2 linked regions of the Homo sapiens genome follow. The protein of the gene in region 2 purifies or fractionates together with the protein of the main gene of each other region. This does not show direct contact. Each region holds a gene or a part of one and is shown on either strand. Other genes may lie near its edges.

Evidence for each region.
Region 1: the proteins of CNN3 (region 2) and MTHFD1L fractionate together in Homo sapiens (co-fractionation; one large-scale study listed by BioGRID). This does not show direct contact.

The regions. Positions count from the first base shown.
Region 1 is NC_000006.12:151,008,625-151,012,450, reverse strand, and holds part of MTHFD1L (monofunctional C1-tetrahydrofolate synthase, mitochondrial isoform 2 precursor), read right to left. Parts: intron 2,633-3,826; coding exon 2,493-2,632; intron 1-2,492. UniProt on the Homo sapiens protein: May provide the missing metabolic reaction required to link the mitochondria and the cytoplasm in the mammalian model of one-carbon folate metabolism complementing thus the enzymatic activities of MTHFD2.
Region 2 is NC_000001.11:94,899,704-94,903,356, reverse strand, and holds part of CNN3 (calponin-3), read left to right. Parts: intron 1-168; coding exon 169-235; intron 236-1,098; coding exon 1,099-1,236; intron 1,237-1,571; coding exon 1,572-1,688; intron 1,689-3,653. UniProt on the Homo sapiens protein: Thin filament-associated protein that is implicated in the regulation and modulation of smooth muscle contraction. It is capable of binding to actin, calmodulin and tropomyosin. The interaction of calponin with actin inhibits the actomyosin Mg-ATPase activity.

The sequences.
Region 1 (3,826 bases), on a different chromosome or scaffold from region 2:
CATGGTTATTTGTGTAATGATCAAAAGGAAGTCGATCCCAGCGCAGTATTTGTAGCAAAAAAGAAAAAAGAAAACAGAAGTAGAAATGAATAATCATGGTTCAAAAATACAGAGCTATTCAATATGAAGGAAGGACACCGAGATGAGCACTATGGAATAGAGGATTAAGAGGATGAAAGTTCATTTATCTTGCCATTATTGAAAACACTCCCTGCATATAGACCATGCCAGACACTTGGACCATACCAATTAATAAGACACAGTCCCTAAACTCAAGGAATTGAGAATTACATAGGGAGACACAGAACAAGGCATTCATGAAACAATGTGAGGCAGAAGGTACTACTGGAGCCCAGGAGAGGGATGCCTAGCTTCACAGGGCTTCCTGGTCCCTGCTGGTTTTTTTTTTTTTTTTTTTTTTTTTTTTTTTTGTTGTTGTTGTTGTTGTTGAGATGGACTTTTGTTCTTGTCACCCAGGCTGGAGTGCAATGGTGCAATCTCAGATCACTGCAACCTCTGCCTCCCAAGTTCAAGCGATTCTCTTGCCTCAGCCTCCTGAGTAGTGGGAATTACAGGCGCCCGCCACCACTGGTCTTGAACTCCTCAGGTGATCCACCTGCCTCAGCCTCCAAAGTGCTGGGATTACAGGCATGAGCCACCACGCCTGGCTGGTCCCCACCTTTTCTTATCCTCCACCCATATCTGTGCCTACTAACCCTGTTCCATGTTACCATGATCACTGGCTGAGAACCATGACATTAAGCAGCAGTGGAAGAGACACAAAGGATTAATGTGGCACGAAAGTGCAACCACTGAATAACAGAGCACATATGTTAAGATGAATGAAATAGGATTGTAAACCATGTAGAGAATTTTTACAGGACAGAGACCAGAGTCTGGAAAACTATGGGACTGATGTCAAGAGACCAGGACTGTAGATCTGATCAGTCCCTGAAATAGATGTGTGACACCACTCAAGTCACTGCGTCTCCCTGTGCCTCAGAGATTTTCTCTTTATAAAGACTGAATGAGATCAGACAATCTCTAAGCCCTTTCTATAATTTTCAGGGTGGCAGGGCAGGGAGGGAGAATTCCAAATGCATCCTACATGGGCGGAAGTAGTTTTTAAAAATAGAAGTTGTTATACAGATTCAATGTCTAAAATCCAGGAAGGACTGTAGCAACAAGGGGTGTTTTGAGTGAAGTCAGAATTCTTTATGATTTACTACTTTTAATCTGTATTATATCATTCTTGCATTTGAAATGATGATGAAGCTTTAGGCAAAAATGAAGTGCTTAAGTGTCGGGTATTAGGAGTGGATTTGGATTTAGAAAACTTCTGCCCTTCATTAACATCCAGCTCTGCATGGTGGACATAGTAGGAGATTTAGATCTGAAGTTCTCGGCTCTCTGCTGGCCTGCTGACATTGTCCATATTCCCTAAGCCTATCAAAACTCAGCTTCCTTATCTGTAAAATGGTATAAAAATCATGTCCACCTCTCCCAGGAGAAAGAATTGCTTTACAGCGTTTCATGATGGCAAACCTGCTACTTGTTTTGACTATGCAATAATCATTGAATATATGACTTTTGTCACATACACAGTACAGTATACCAATTAAGAAATCAGATTTGGCAGTTCGTCTCATATGTGAATATTATGATAGAGAAATTTTATTTTATTTCAAAATGATTAATCAGTATAAAATGTCTTATTCTCCACTTGGAAATTCCTAAAAATGAAACAAAAAAACAACAAACAAGCAAACAACAACAAAAAAACCCCCAAAAATCTATGCACAGGTTTTCTGTGGAAAGGAATATATTTCCTTTATAATGTCTGTAATTTCTATATATATTAGGATAGGTAAATATAAAAAGTCTTTAAAGAAGTTAAAATCGAATTTGTGTTTTCCAAGCAAAGCTCTTAGAAACAATCCAGTATTATAACAGAGTTGTGAGGAGAAATCATAATAAACAGAAAGAGAAGGAAAATAGTTTTAGATGAAATCTGATGAGTTGCAGCATCAGTGAACCGAAAAACTATCTGTACAAACAATGAAAAATCTCTGTCATCAAAGAACTCACTCTAATCCTCTTGTTCTTCGTTCAGGGACAAGAGCCTCTAACCTCCCATTACCATATGGTTATACAATCTTGGCCTGAGTATCAGATGTGAAGCTTGAGACTAAAAAGTGGTTGCATTATGCTCCTTTCCAAAATATTGTTTAGAAAGAACTGTGGGTGTTACTGTTTACTCGAACTTACTAAACTCAAAGTGCCCTATGGTGGTGTTGGGAAAAAACAAAAAACAACACAAAACAAAAAACGTTTTAGATGTCCACGAGGGAGGTCTACAGGAAAAAAAAAGTTTTAAGAAAAATACTCTAGAAAACTATAGTCATTAAATGGGCAGGAATTTTTCAAATGCTCAATTCTGTTTTAACATAATGAAATTTCTTTGGTATTAGGAAGGCGGTGTGGGCACTTACACTTGGCCCGCCTCCATGCATCTTCAGAGCTCGCACCGTTGCCACTAACACAACCACGTTGGGCACCAAGCCGGAAGCTCGGCACTTGATGTTGAAGAATTTCTCCATTCCGATGTCAGCACCAAAGCCAGCTTCGGTCACTGTGGGGAAGCAAGTGGAATATGTGCTATTATCTTCTAAAAACAAAGGTAGGTTTTGGCAATCACCACTATGATTCGAGCTCAAAGGACAGCTTACATTCCTTTTGTTTACCAACACAAAGGTGAACTGATTTCCCCATTGTCATAGAAATGTTCTTCACTTTCTGCCCTAAAGAGACTGCGCCCTCCTCTGCTTCCCACCGCCAGGCCTGAGGGATTCCTTGTGGTGGCCAGGCCAAGACTTTTCTTCCCATATCATAACTCACAGTGAAGCTTTTTTTTTTGGAGATGGTGTCTTGCCCTGTCGCACAGGCTGGAGTACAGCGGCATGATCTCGGCTCACTGCAACCTCTGCCTCCCGGGCACAAGCGATTCTCCTGACTCAGCCTCCTGAGTAGCTACAGGTGTTTGCCACCACACCTGGCTAATTTTTTATTTTTGTATTTTTAGTAGAGATGGGGTTTCACCATGTTGGCCAGACTGGTCTCAAACTCCTGACCTTGTGATCCACCCGCCTCAGCCTCACAAAGTGCTGGGATTACAGGCGTTGAGCCAAGGTGACCAGCCAGTGAAGCTTTTCTTCATACAGATGGGGATTTTCAACTTTGTAATCAGGTTCCAAATTGTTTCAAAAGGCAATGATAGTATGATTACAATGGAAGATCCTTTCTTACTCTTTTTTTTTTTTTTTTTTTTGAGATGGAGTTTCGCTCTTGTCCCCCAGGCTGGAGTGCAATGGCACAATCTCAGCTCACTGCAACCTCCGCCTCCCGGGTTCAAGCGATTCTCCTGCCTCAGCTTCCCAAGTAGCTGGGATTACAGGAACCCACCACCACACCCGGCTAATTTTTTTTTTTTATTGTTAGTAGAGACGGGTTTTTGCCATGTTGGCCAGGCTGGTCTCAAAGTCCTGATCTCAGGTGATCTGCCCACCTTGGCCTCCCAAAGTGCTGGGATTACAGGCATGAGCCACCACACCCGACCCTTTCTTACCCTTTATATTAAGAATAATTTATTTTAGTGCCACCCAGTAATTTCTGTTAACTGACAAATTTCAAGTTAGTTGAAGGGCATAAGGATACTGATGGTCAATCTGGATACAAGACAGCAGCTTTATTAGAGAAACACCAGAAAACACTCGTTTCTAGTCCCCACCCCCTCAGTTGCTAGAAAGGTCACAGCTGCCTTTCAAGA
Region 2 (3,653 bases):
CCACAGCCTTCTCTCTCACTCTCCTTCTCAGCCCAGGGTGTCAGACCTTGATATTCTACAGATATCTTTAATGCTTTCCCTTACTGATGCTAAAGGGAGCAACTTGATATTTCAATCCTTGTTTTTGTGTGCCAGTAAATAAGATGTCTCTCATATTTTTCTTTTCAGACTTATAAACAAGCTACAGCCAGGCTCAGTGAAGAAGGTCAACGAGTCCTCACTGAACTGGCCTCAGGTAACAGCCAAACCAACCACCTCTGGTTCTAGTTGGTTGCATTTTATGTAGTGAAAACTTGATTTCAGGTTTGGTTTTTTGGTTTTGTGTTTTTTTTTTTTTTAACTTTTTGATTACGGTTTTTACATAGACATTGTAGCAGAAATTTGTGCATATTTAATTTTTTGCCCTTTTGTAATGGTTCTGTAATTACTTATTTAACTAGTTCTGTAATTATTACGTTTAGCTTAGAAGTTTTCCTATATTTAGTCTGTGTACATTCAGAAAGGACTTGACACAGCTTACACAGAGAAATGCAACCCAGACCTTAAGGATAAGGGAAAAAACAAGGCATTCCACATAACTAACAGTGGACTGCAGAGCACTGTATCAGACATAACCTTAGTTCATGAGTGTGTATGAGGAAGGAAAATGGGATACTTACTGGTCTTGAACATGTGTTTGGAGATATGAGAGAATGAGTATTTAGTAACCACAAATGTATTCTGAAATTAAAATAACACATAATGAATTATTTATTAGTATGAGTAATTATACACCTTTTGACAAATAAAATTCCAGGCCTGGATAGCTCTGATACAGAATCCTTTTAAAATATATAAGGAAGATCTTGCCCATAAAAACTGAAAACACGTAACTGCTTAAAAATATTAAGACTGTGATGTGACCCACAGTGAGAGACACACTCTCTTCTTGCTCTTTCCTGTTCCAGAGAGAGCCATGCTTAGTATGTATTTGGTTGAATCCTTGTCAAACAGCTTTCTGGGCAGCGTCTTATAACTGTTTATGAAGACTTGGAATTCTTAGAAATTATGAATGTCAATATTTAGCTCCAGAAATTATAAAACTCTTCTTCTTTATAGTTGGAGAATATTGGCAACTTTATTAAAGCTATTCAGGCTTATGGTATGAAGCCACATGACATATTCGAAGCAAATGATCTTTTTGAGAATGGAAACATGACCCAGGTTCAGACTACTCTGGTGGCTCTAGCAGGTCTGGTACGTACATGTCTTTAATGGCTGGTTAACAGATTCCCACCACATTGGTGATGAATTGCATCATTGCTTTTTCATGGGGGTTCAGACCAGGTGGGGCGGGGCCTGTCTCTTCTGTAATTAGTAGCTTTGTGGAAAGGCTGCTGACATCAGCTGCATCGTACTAGATAGCTTACTTAGAACACTCACATTTCAAATGATGCAGTATATTATTGAACAGCCTTAAATACTTTTTATCTCTAGTTTGGGCCCCTTTGTCTATGGACATATCATTTCTTTGTTGTTCCTTCTGTGAAACTCTGTTGGCCTTTTCAGTTAGTGTGCATGTTTCTGTCTAGGCTAAAACAAAAGGATTCCATACAACCATTGACATTGGAGTTAAGTATGCAGAAAAACAAACAAGACGTTTTGATGAAGGAAAATTAAAAGCTGGCCAAAGTGTAATTGGTCTGCAGGTAAGTAATGTGGTGTTGCTTATTCAATTACTTATTCAATATGATTAATTCTCACCATGCAAAATATTAAGCCTCTCCTAAGAATAGACAGAAGTACTATAGTACTGGGGGGGGGGTGTAGTTTATACAATTTATATCTATTTATAAAGCCCATAAGACAGTGATAATTTTTTAGAGGAAACCTCAGGTATGCCACCTGACTTGACAATTATTTCTCCAGGAAACGAAAATTTTTAATTGAATCATATTGTCTTTTTTTTTTTTTTAAAAAAGAAAAATACACTTTTAAATTTTTTATTTTATCTTTTTTTTTTTGAGACAGAGTCTCACTCTTTTGCCCAGGCTGGAGTGCAGTGACGCGATCTCGGCTCACTGTAACCTCCACCTCCTGGGTTCAAGCAATTCTCCTGCCTCAGCCTGCCAAGTAGCTGGGATTATGGGAATGAGCCACCATGCCCGGCTAAGTTTTGTAGTTTTAGTAGAGATAGGATTTCACCATGTTGGCCAGGCTGGTCTTGAACTCCTGACCTCAGGTGATCTGCCCACCTCGGCCTCCCAAAGTGCTTGGATTACAGGCGTGAACTACTGCACCTGGCCTGTTTTATCTTTTATATATAGATGGGATCTCACTTTGTTGCCCAGGATAGTCTCAAACTCTGGAGCTCAAGCAGTCCTCCTGCCTTGGCCTCCCGAAGTGCTGAGATTACAGGCATGAGCTACCACACCCAGCCAGAAATGTACTTTATAAATTCCTTAATGTTATTGACCAAATTAGGCAATTTTACACGACCTTAATGCCAAAGTCACTTATTTACAGTACCAAATCATGATATAGCAGCCAAGCCCTGTTAGAATTTGTCAGTTTAAATTCTTCTGAAATACGTAGTTCAGATGTTTTCCTTCTCTTCATTGTTCTCTTCACTGGTCATGGAAACGTCATTGCTAATTCCCCAAATGCTGTTGGCTTTACTCTCCAAAAGCCACTGTACCTGCTTGATACAGTGCCCCTTTCTACTGAGTCTATGCAAGTTAGATTTATTTTTACACAGTACAAAATTGTATTGGTGGTGAGAAACTGGAAACCTAAATTTCAGAACAGTAGTCAGTTGGTTGAATTACAACTCCATAAAAGCAAAGTGTAATGTAAAATTATACACTAGAGTTTGAAAAGATAGGTTATGGGGGAAAAAAATCAGATCATCAAATACTGTGGTCAGTATGGATTTTTAAAATTAAAAATGCACATGTTTTTGTATGTATTTGTATATATGTGCATCTATAGATATATACATAGACACATAGGTTAAAAAGCTAAAAGGATATTCACAAATGTTGACAGTGAATGGATGGTGGTATCACAATGATTTTTCCCCCCTCCTTTTTGCTTATATGTGTTTTCTGAATTTTCTTCAATGAACAGATTTTATATTAGTAATAAAGATTTTCTTTAATCTTATTTTTAAAGAAAAAAGATCCAACATCAGAAAAGTGTGCCTAACCAGTGGAACAGGGTGTAATGGTTGGTCCTGAAGCCATACTGTTCTCAGTGGGGAAGAAAAATTAATTATTGTTTCCCTGAACTTTGCTGAGTTCAAATTCCTCATTCCACCTTTCTCCAGCTCTGTCCAAGGACATGGGAGTTACAGGAATAAAATGTGGTTCCTTTCTGGAGAAAATGTTGGTGATTTTGAAACTTTAAAAAGCCCTTGTTAAGCTCCCAGAGAAAACACTTGGCATTTGCTTTCACATTTTATGTAAAACATTCCTGGAGTAGAACAGCATATTGCTTGGCCTAGGATTACTTCTGTTGAAATAACCGAAGCTGGTACCTCTTAATTTGGTTATCTGGGGAAAGAGTAGCAGAGGAAATTATTCTGCCACTGTAATGACTTTTGGTGTGTCAGTCCACCTGTTAAAGTGTGTTTAATTCTTCTATGTATGAGTTTTTATCTATAGTGACTTTAA